2 separate regions of the Homo sapiens genome follow, and region 2 is linked to region 1. Evidence: fine-mapped expression QTL. Tissue or cell type: monocytes. Region 1 holds a variant in brackets; the other region holds the start of a gene. All regions are shown on one strand. Distances are from middle to middle.

Region 1 (5,429 bases):
ACGAGGATCCTTTGAGCCCAGGAGTTTCACTCCAGCTTGTGCATACTGAGACCCCGTCTCCGAAAAAACGCAAAATCCCAATAAAACAAAACAAAAAAGAGAGTGATGATCCTACTTCGAAGCACTGTGGTGTTGATCAGTAGGTAAGGCTTATGACGTCAGGCACCTCCCTTATCAGACTGGCAGCCCCCCAGGGCAAGGCTCCTCAGGAACGGGCCTCTTGGGGCCCCAGCTTCATCCCATGGCTGCCCATGGCTCCCAGGCTAGGTGAGTGGGTGGAAGGTGGGAGACTGAGAAGGAAACACAAACTTTGGCCTGTTCTGGTACTGCCTGGCCTGGCCTCCCCTGCCTGGTGTCTCTGAGGGGAAGCCGGGGCCATGGGCAGCCTGGAAGGGGCTGGAGAGTGGCTCACCCCTCAGCCTCTGCTGACCCTGCCCTTGACCCGCAGGGCCAGGACAGAGAGGGGAGTGGGAGGCACATTCCTGGCATTTGGAGGGAGAGACTGAGGCCATGAAGGGCAGGCTCTGGCAGCATAGGAGGGTGGTGGGGGGAGGGGAGTGCAAACTTCATTTCTGTCTGACAGATGGGTAAACTGAGGCTCAAGTTCCTCCAGCAAGTTAGCGGCAGAAGCAGGACGAGAACCAGGGCCCTTGACTCCCAGCATAGTGCTCTCTTCCCCTTTCCCTATCTCCACATTTTTTGGGTTGGTTTGAAACGGCAAAGAGAGGGTGTGTGTCTCAGAATATGTTCAGGGTCCCCTTCCCAAGCCCAGGTCTGGCTGTGGCCATACCAGTGACACTCTCCTGGCCATGGTCTGGGCTTCGAAGTTCCAGAAGAGACCTTGTCTGGGCAATGTAAATCCCACTAACCCTAAGGCTCAGCCCTGGGGGAAGGTCCCCCTCAGCCTGCTCCTTGACAGAGGGCATCAGCTGTTTCCACTGGTATATCCCCTCTTTCCCTTTCTTCTCCACCAGCGGGGCAGTGCTAGGACATAGGGCAACGCTCAGAGTTCGAGGGTCACCTGAGTCCTGACCGTCTCCAAAAACTGTGGGGAGGGGTCAGGAGGTCCAGCTCCTGGTTTAAAGTCCTGCTCTGTTGGTTGACAGGCTGTGCGGCTTAGAGCAAGGCCCTTCCTCTCTCTGGACCTCAGTTTCTCCATCTGTAAAATGAGGGGTAGGTGACATTCATGGTTTTAGTATGTTACCCCCTGGAGGATGCCTGTGCTACCCACTATATCCCCAAACCTGAGGTGTGAGGTGGCCCTGACCTATTTTGGAGGGAAATGGGAGGGGATGGGCCTACCTGGGCTGTACCAGCTACTTTTTGGCTGGTTTAGTTTTCAGAGGACTAAAGGAAGGGGATCATTGTCTGCTAAGTATGGCAGCAATTTCTGCTGTTCCTCCAGGCTCCAACGTGCCCCAACTTCCCCTCAGAGACATCAGGTAGGAGAGGCCAGGCCAGGCAGTACCAGAACAGGCACAAGTTTGTGTTTCTCTTCTGCTTGGGGTAAGGTCAGGTAAGGGGAAGGGACCCATATTAGCCTTTTGAGGCTTGATAGGTCGAGTGTTTGGTGTCTGAAAACTACACCTTCTTTTCTTTTTTGATAGGGTCTCACTCTGTCACCCAGGATGGAGTGCAGTGGCACGATCTCCACTCACTGCAACCTCTGCCTCCCAGGCTCAAGCCATCCTCCTACCTCAGCCTCCTGAGTAGCTGGGACTACAGGCACATGCCACCATGTCCGGCTAATTTTTGTATTTTTTGTATAGATGGCGTTTCACTATGTTGCGCAGGCTGGTCTTGAACTCCTGTGCTCAAAGCCATCCACCTGCCTTGGCCTCCCAAAGTGCTGGGATCACACACAGGCATGAGCTGCTCCCAGCTGAAAGCTACAATTTTTTTTTTTTTTTTATTGGAGATGGAATCTCACTTTGTCACCCAGGCTGGAGTGCAGCGGTGTGATCTTGGCTCACTGCAGCCCCCACTTCCTGGGTTCAAATGATTCTCCTGCTTCAGCCTCCCAAGTAACTGGGATTACAGGTGTGGGCCAACACACCTGGCTAATTTTTTGTATTTTTAGTAGAGATGGAGTTTCACCATGTTGGCCAGGCTGGTCTCGAACTCCTGACCTCAGGTGATCCACCTGCCTCGGCCTCCCAAGGTGCTAGGATTACAGGCATGAGCCACTGCACCCAGCCAGAAAGCTACACTTTCGAGGGTTGACCTTGAAACTACGTGGGGCCATGTGGCTATCCCTGATCCCCTGGAAGGTCTTCAGAGTTAGCTTATCAGCTCAAGTTATTCTCCACTCTGAGTACACGACAGGGAACTCCTCTCCCTCAGTGCTTAGGCACTGGGGTGGCCATGGGGGTTGGGGCAGCAGTGGCCTGTCAGGGCAGGGTTTTGCAAGGGGACTTAGCATCCTCGGGAGAGGAGGACACTGGCCATCTTCCTTTTTCCAGGAGGTCATGGGGAGAGTATGTGGTGGGACACCGTGGGCCTCCCTCCACCAGAAACATGGTCTTAGCAGCCACGGGCTTGTAGGGGGATGGAGCTGAGGAGAGGACTGTCAGGCAGGCTGGAGAGCCTCCAGGGGGACCCTAGTCTCCCCCAATCTCAGGGAGCTCCTTAAAGCAGCCACAATCCACTGCAAAAGGGCAAAGCCTATGGGGGGGCCTGGGGGAAGTAGGACTCCAAGGCCTCCATTTTGTACCCCTAAAGGCTGTAGCCAAGAGGAGGAGGAATGCAGGATTCCCCGCTAGGCCCTGTTCTGACAGGCTGGGGAGGAAGGGTGGGGCTCCCAAGTGAGCCCACATGCTCCTGATCTCAGGTCGTAGCTAGGCAGCTTTGTAAACAGCAGAAACACAGAGCAGCCTCTGTGTGTGTGTGTGTGTGTGTGTGTGTGTGTGCATGTGTATGTGTGTGCCTGTGCTGGGGGACTCACGCCCCAGAGGGGACCCTTCTCATTACTTTATAGTCACAGTTATATACAGGTCTGAGGCTGGGGTTCTGCCAGCTAATGCTTGCTGGCATTAGCTGTGTTGCAGGTCTGTGTTGCAGGTCTGCTCCATGTATTGTCTCCTTTAATCTTCCCAACCCTATAGGCAGGCATCCTTATTACCCAGTTTTACAGGTGGGGAAACTGAGGCTCTGAAAGTTGCAGATGCTCAGGGTCACAGAGCAACTGAGTGATAAAGCCAGGTCAGGGTTCAAATTGAGGTCTGTCTGACTTCAGTCCAGTTATACTCCTGGCACCTGTGGACGTGTGTGCAT[G/A]TGAGCACTGATCAAGGGCTATGTGTATGCACATGTGCGGATGTGTGCTTTGATGGTGGGCCTCAGTCTGCCTGCGCCTGTTGAGGACACCTGCATGTAGGCGTGGATGTCTCCGCCCAGGGATGGAGGTGTGCACACAGATGTCCATTTGCACTTATGTTTGCACAATGCACGTATGTTGGGTACACATGTATGTGTTGTATGTGTGCACATGTGAACATATGCATAAGAACATATGCTTGTGCACAGTGTGCCTGCATTTGTGAGTAGGTGTGTGCATAGGCTGTGCATATGTGTGTTCATATCTGCAGATAGCCATGTCCCCAGGTATATGTGGTCATCTCCAAAGGCTGACCTCACTCCAGTTCACTCAGCCTGTGTCCCCTTCTCAGGCTCCTGACTCACCACATGTGTGGAATCTATTTGCATGTCAGTCCCACTGAGTCAGTGTCACAGCAGGATGTGTGATGGCCTTGCTGGTGGTACAGGGACTTCGAAGGAGGGGCGCTTGGGGAGAGGTAGGATTGGCAGGGATGAGTGTTGAATAGGAAGGTGGCGGATGGGATGAAAGAGATTAAGGCCAGGTGTGGAGGCGGGCCTAGGTGTTTTTCAGCCCCCAGTCAGGGGTAGAGGCCTCAAGGAGGCTAATCCTGCCCCCTGTACTTACCTCTTTCTTATTTTTTATTTTTATTTTTAGATAGAGATGGGGTCTCACTATATTGCCCAGGCTTGTCTCGAACCCCTGAGCTCAAGCGATCCTCTCACCTCGCCCCAGGAACAGCTCTTTGCACTGTCCCAGACCCCAGGCCATAGGTATCTGGTTCCCCATTGGGCGTGGAGGTGCAGATGAGGCAGTGGTCAGCAGGGGGCGCTCAGAGCCTGCAGATGGTGGGGAGCCATGGAACAAGCAGGTGGGAATGGGAGTGGGGAGGGTAGGGCTGAACCACGGGCACAGACCCACCTGCGGGGAAAGGGTGGAGGAACATGAACTTTGCAACATGAGGGGCAGACTCCCAGAGGGCCAGATATACACATCCTCCCCAGAGGGACAGGCCCTCTCCAACAGACTCACAGACCCTCAGAAGGACAGACACAGGGACAATCCCTCACCCTCTGAGAACATTCCGGGCCCAATGAGCCGGAGGGAGGTGAGAGTGACCACACTGGCCTGCATGTCCCTCTGGAGGCAGGGGGTGTTGGCTCTTGGTGACAGTGAGGAGGGGAAGGAAGGCAAGGGCTCTAGAGTCAGGCACGCTCAAGGTCTGACTTCAGCGTTGCCTCTGGGTGACCTGAGCTCTCCTGAATGGGGCAATGTCTTCCAGGTGTCCAGCTCAGGCCTGGACACGCAACGTCACCCTGGAGGTTATGAGAGGTTGCCAGAGCCTCCGTCATTGGTATGTCTGCACATTTCTCCAAGCATCTACTAAGTGCCAGGTCCACTGCAAGGCGCTGGGGATATGGTAATGATCAAGTCACACTCAGTGGCTCCTGCCACTGCTAGGGAGCTAACATTCTAACGGGGGGAGTATCTTAGGATACTTGGGATACAAAATGATCACTATTCCCCCCATTTGATTATTTGAAGTGGAAATTATGGGACAAAAGGCAGAGACTGGCAGGGAAGGCCCTTTCCTCTTTTATTGCTTATCAAATGCAGGCTGAGAAAAGTCCAGATATTATGGTACTGCTGTGGTCCCCTGCCTCTTACTGCAGAGGTCAGATCCAAACCCTCCATCTCATTCAGTCAAAGCTGAGGTTCAACAGTGGCCCCTGAGGCCTAGTGTAGGCTGAACCCCCCGCCTCTCCCCTCATCCCTCCTCGCAAGTCCTCAAACATGATAGGCAGGTTCTGCCTCCGGGCCTTTGCCCTTGCTGTTCTGCCTCTGGGCCTCTGGCCTTGCTATTCTCTCTTCCTGGAATGGTCTTCCCCAGGCTTCTGCGTGGCTTGTTTCTTCATCTCTTGTTTTTTTTTTTTTTGAGATGGAGTCTCACTCTGTCACCCAGGGTGGAGTGCAGTGGTTCAATCTCAGCTCATTGTAACCTCTATCTCCTGGGTTCAAGTGATTCTCCTGCCTCAGCCTCCCCAGTAGCTGGGACTACAGGCACCTGCCACCACACTCAGCTAATTTTTTTGTACTTTTAGTAGAGACGGGGTTT
Region 2 (5,429 bases), 85 kb before region 1:
CCCTTACCAGAGAGCAGGTGTGAAGCATTTATCAGGACACCACTGGTGGGTGGGGGTGTATTGGAGAGTGGTGGTACATAGGAGAGAGTTGGCTGAAGAAGCCAGCCAGAAAGAGAGCTCCCATAGTGGCAAAGAGCTTTCGATTTGAACTCAAGGCTCTGTTATTTACTGAATGACCTTGGGCCACTTACTTAACCTCTCCCCAGTCACTTTCTTTTTCTTTTTTTTTTTTTGAGACGGAGTCTCGCTCTTTCACCAGGCTGGAGTGCAGTGGTGTGATCTCTGCTCACTGCAACCTCTGCCTCCCCGGTTCAAGCGATTCTCCTGACTCAGCCTCCGGAGTAGCTGGCATTACAGGTGTGTGCCACCAAGCTTGGCTATTTTTTTTTTTTTTGTATTTTTAGTAGAGACAGGGTTTCACCATGTTGGTTAGGCTGGTCTCGAACTCATGACCTCAAATGATCCACCTGCCTCGGCCTCCCAAAGTGCTGGGATTACAGGCGTGAGCCACCATGCCCGGCCCAATTTCTTATCTATATTGCAGGATTGATTAGTATCAGGTTTAAATTTATATGTACACATATATGGTATTTAAAATCATGACCTTTCCATTCCACCTAATAAATGTTATCTATTATCGTTTTGGGAAATAAAAGCATGTGTTAGAAAAATCAGCTTTTTTTTTTTTTTTGAGACAGGGTTTCTCTCCGTTGCCCAGGCTGGAGTGCCGTGGTGCAGTCTCAGCTCATTGCAACCTCCACCTCCCAGGTTCAAGCAATTCTTCTGCCTCAGCCTCCCAAGTAGCTGGGATTACAGGTGCCTGACACCACACCTGGCTTTTTTTTTTTTTTTGTATTTTTGGTAGAGATGAGGTTTCACCATATTGGCCAGGCTGGTCTCAAACTCCTGACCTCGAGTGATCCATCAGCCTCGACCTCCCAAAGTACCGGGATTACAGGCATGAGCCATCACACCCGACTTTTTTTTTTTTTTCTTTTTGAGACAGGATCTTGTTTTGTCATTCAGCCTGCAATGCAGTGGCGTGATTATAGCTCACTGCAGCTTCAACCTCCTGGGCTCAGGTGATCCTCCACCTCAGCCTCTGAAGTAGCTGGGACTACAGGGGTACACCAACACGCCCAGCTAAATTTTTAATTTTTATTTTAAAGATGGGAGTCTCACTATGTCGACCAGGCTGGTCTTGAACCCCCGGCCCCAGGTGATGCTCTGTCCTAAGCCTTCCAAAATGTTGGGATCACAGGCGTGAGGCACCCCAATGGGCCAGAAAATGAGCATGGTAATCCCCAGCTAACACCTTAAGAATGCCTCCTGGCCGGTCGCGGTGGCTCACGCCTGTAATCCCAGCACTTTGGGAGGCCGAGGCGGGCAGATCACGAGGTCAGGATATCGAGACCATCCTGGCTAACACGGTGAAAACCCGTCTCTACTAAAAAAAATACAAAAAAAATTAGCCGGGCGTGGTGGTGGGCGCCTGTAGTCCCAGCTACTCGGGAGGCTGAGGCAGGAGAATGACGTGAACCCAGGAGGCGGAGCTTGCAGTGAGCCGAGATAGCGCCACTGCACTCCAGCCTGGGCGACAGAGCGAGACGCCGTCTCAAAAAAAAAAAAAAAAAAAAAAAAAAAAAAAATACTGCCTCCTATTGGAGGTGGGTGCATTAACCGAGCTCTCGAAGCCCTGTCTGCTCTGGGCTTACAATCTACATGGAGAACCAAATGCGCTCCAGGAAGTTACACAGCACTAAAAATACACTTGTATTCATATTAGACTTTACAGGTCACAGAAATCTTTCATATGAGTTATCTCCTGTGATCCTCACAACAGCCACCTGTTTATAGAGAGCATCAGAAAGGATGAGTGATGTTGAGGGTCACGCAGAGAAGCAATGGCCGAATTACTAGCCTCCGAAGGACTGTCACCAGATTGGTCACCATGGGGTATCAAGTAGTGCTGCTGCATAAAGGCAACACTGAGAGATGAAGCCCCTTTCTCCAGCATCTGTGTGGGTGGAGGGCCAGGGATCCCGTCTGTTACGCACATTCAACAAACTCAAGTTTTGCCATCCACTGGGCGTCCTGCAGTACAGCGGTGTGGGCTCATCTCCAGGACCTCTCTCTACGGGGTACGCCCCTCATCTTGCGGTGATCAGTGTTCCTTCCAGACCTCTCAGTCCGGACTGAGTTGGGCACCGCGTCAGCGTCTCCCGGCCAGGCTCGCCGCCGATGACTCCGCTCGGCCTAGGGAGGCGGCCGAGAGCCCGTAGGGCTCCTCCTTCCCTCCAGTCTCTATGGCGGAAGTGAGTTGTACGGGCCGAAACACCACAGCGTTCTCGGTGGTGGGCTGAATGGACTCGTCCACATGAGGGGGATCTTCATCACCATCAACTCTTAAAATCCGAGACATAACCACGAAAGGAGCAGCCCCCAGATCAGAGAGCAACGCATGACTATCTGCGTGTGCTTCTGTGACTACGCGGATGTTGTGGGCGGCTACATGCGTGCGGGGGCCCGGCGAGCTGGGCAGGTGCCCCCTCCGGGGCCGTGGGATCTGGTGAGCTTCCCGGCGCGCGGGGGGCGGTGCGGCTTCCGGTCCCGGCTCAGCCTCCGACCCAGGTGGTCTGGAGCCTGCCGGGAGAGTGGTGGCATCTGAGAGGCTGGTCGTGGACTGTGGTTGGGGGAGGTGGGAGCTGTTTTAACCGTGTGCCCCCTCTCCTGTGCCGGCGTGGGCATCCCCCGGGGCAGTGGAACGCGGGCGCTCCTCCAGCTTCCGAGTCCAGCCAGCCTGGGCGCGGGGCGCCGCCCCCGAGACACCCGAGGAGTCCGTTCCTCCCTGGTTACGTGGACTGTGGAGGTTCGCGCGTAGTGGCGGCGGGGGATACGGGACCCGGGCGGGAATTCCTTCCTGCGTCCGTCCCGAGTCTCTTGATATGGAGCCAAGTAAGTTTTCTGGTTTTGCTTTTAGCTGGTCTCTTGTGGCTCAGCGCCGTGCGGAGGTTGAAGCGTACCTGCGGAGGTCGCACCAGGGCGTGAGGAGGAGGAGGAAGGGCATGAGCCGAGCTTGAGGAATCCGTGCTCCAAACTCTACACTCAAGGTGGGAATGGGCGCACCCTGTGCTCCAGCCAGGCTTGAGAAGGCGGCTGTTAGCCTCTGCCACTCGGGGGGACAAGAGGGACGAGACTTTCCAGACCCTACTCTGGTGGGCCCTGCTTGCTCACTGCTCACTGTGTGGGGCAGGGGACAACAAGGTTTTCACAGACCAAATGTGGCAGCTGTGGGAAGGAGAATGGGGTTGGTCAGGACTGACTTCTTGGAGGAGTGGATCCTAAAATAGCACGTAGAATGAGGGAGGAGCCCAGGCTTGGGGCACAAGTGAGATGTGTGGCTTGTGTGAACGATTGCGGGGGACACAAGAGGGAGAAGTCGTGGAAGAAAGGGAGCCGGACCAGAGCCGGGAGTCTCTAGATGGGAAGAAAACTGCTGGATGGAGTAAAACTGGAGGGCAAAACGAGCAAGAGAGCCCTTCTCCTTCTTGATCCAAGCATGTAGGAGAAACTAATCCAGCAACCCCTGGAAGAACCTGGAATTCCTGGGTTGGGCTCAATTGAGCAGTTGTTTTGTAGAAGGTACTAGGAATTACCATTATAGTGATGAATGGAATATAGTCTCTGCCCTATAAGCAGAATATAGGAATTGTTTGCCTAGTGGTAGAGACAAAAACAAAACGTGATGGTGCTTGATAGTACAGGTAGACGCGAGCTGATCGCCAGCTGAGAGGCAGAGCTGGCCTGATCTCTGTGCGGTCCACAGACCGTTGCCCTGTATCCTGTGCTGAGCAACAGTTTAAAAGGGGCAGACACAAACTGAAATATACTTTTTATATTCACCATCTGTCAACCAGATGAGTGAAATATACTTAGAGGAGAGCTGCTAGGATTCCATGCAGATAAGATGTGATGTGGAACAGACATGTTTTTGAGGACTGGGGACCTTCAGCCTGTAGAAGGGGTGAGGGGGTGGTGGAATAGCTGCCCCTAAATAAAAACTCACTTGTGGAAAAGAGGTGAGACTTATTTTGTGTGGCTTTGGGTACCAAAACTAAAACTAAAAGTGGTTTGAAGCACTAAGAGACAGATTCTTCAGCAGAAAGAATAACTGGACTGGGTGCGGTAATCCCAGCACTTTGGGAGGCCGAGGCGGGTGGATCTCTTGAGCTCAGGAGTTCGAGACCAGCCTGGGTAACATGGCAAAACCCTTTCTTTACCAAAAATACAAAAAATTAGCCAGGTGTGGTGGTGTTCGCCTGTGTTCCCAGCTGCTTGGGAGGCTGGGATGGGAGCCTGGGAGGCAGAAGTTGCAGTGAGTAGAGATTGTGTCACTGTATTGCAGCCTGGGTGATGGAGTGAGACCCCATTTCATAAATAAAATAAATAAATAAATCAGAATAACTGAATAGAACTTCCTGAACATTGACTGGTTGTTGTGAGAGCTAGTGAATTCCCAGTCAGGGGAGGTTTGCAAGCTGAATACTCTGAGTTATAAGGAACTTGAAGCTCCCTCTCCCTCTGGGCATGTATTTAGTTATTATGTTCTAGTTCTCAAGTCTCTTGTTCTCTCCTTCCTACTCTCTCTACCACTGCTGTGTTATAGCCTTGCATCATCTCTTGGCAGTAACAATGTAATAATGAATTATAGCAGCTAATACTTAGTGGATATTTACCATTTGTCAGGTACTTATTTAAGTGTTTTATACATGCTAGCTCATTCAGCCCTCAACCCTTTCAAGGTAGCCATTATTATCTCTTTTGTATATGTGGCAGATAGGTGTTAAGCAGCTTGCCCAAGATCATGAGCATGGAGCAAGTGGCAGAGCTGGGGTTCCATTCCAGGTTGTCTGGCTTTCAAGTCATCGTTTTCAACCACTATTCTACTGTATTTTACATGTGTTACCTTAATTCTCACTACTATCCCCATTTACAGATAAGAAGTTCAGAGAGGTTGAGTGATTCGCTTAAGGTCATAGAGCAAGATGTAGATGAGGTGGGATTCAAACCCAGGACTGTAGGACATGAAAAACCGCCCACACCTGATTATGCTGCTTCTGTAACTACATCTACTGTAGTGGTCTTTAACTGACTTCCGTGCCCAGCCTTTGTGCCTTAAATCCACAAGTTTTTACCCTGGAGTCTGTGGATGTGGGTGTCTCTAGAAATAGGTGAGATTTGGTATATGTGTGTGTGTGAGAGTCATGTTTTTAAAGCCCAGTCTTCATGGCTTCATTCACTTCTCAGAGCAGTTTGTGACCCCAATACGGTTTAGAGCCATTCTTTGCCCTTTAGCCAAAGGTACTTGTCTTTTTTTTTTTAAATTTATTTTATTACTTTGTATTTTTGTTTTTTTTGAGACAGGGTCT

The links. PIP is the estimated chance that this variant, and not a neighbour inherited with it, causes the effect.
Region 2: it holds the start of ATG101, and the variant in region 1 is fine-mapped to the expression of ATG101 in monocytes (TOPMed, PIP above 0.99).

The regions. Positions count from the first base shown.
Region 1 is chr12:52,152,816-52,158,244 of GRCh38, forward strand. No RefSeq gene overlaps it. Among named protein-coding and RNA genes, the nearest start is that of KRT80, 36 kb to the right of the region's middle. The variant G/A (reference allele first, on the strand shown) is at 3,274.
Region 2 is chr12:52,067,374-52,072,802 of GRCh38, forward strand. ATG101 (autophagy related 101) reads left to right here and starts at 2,605. Exons shown (of 4, transcript NM_021934.5): 1 at 2,605-2,869; 2 at 2,981-3,110. RefSeq lists enhancers at 2,071-2,360, 2,238-2,953.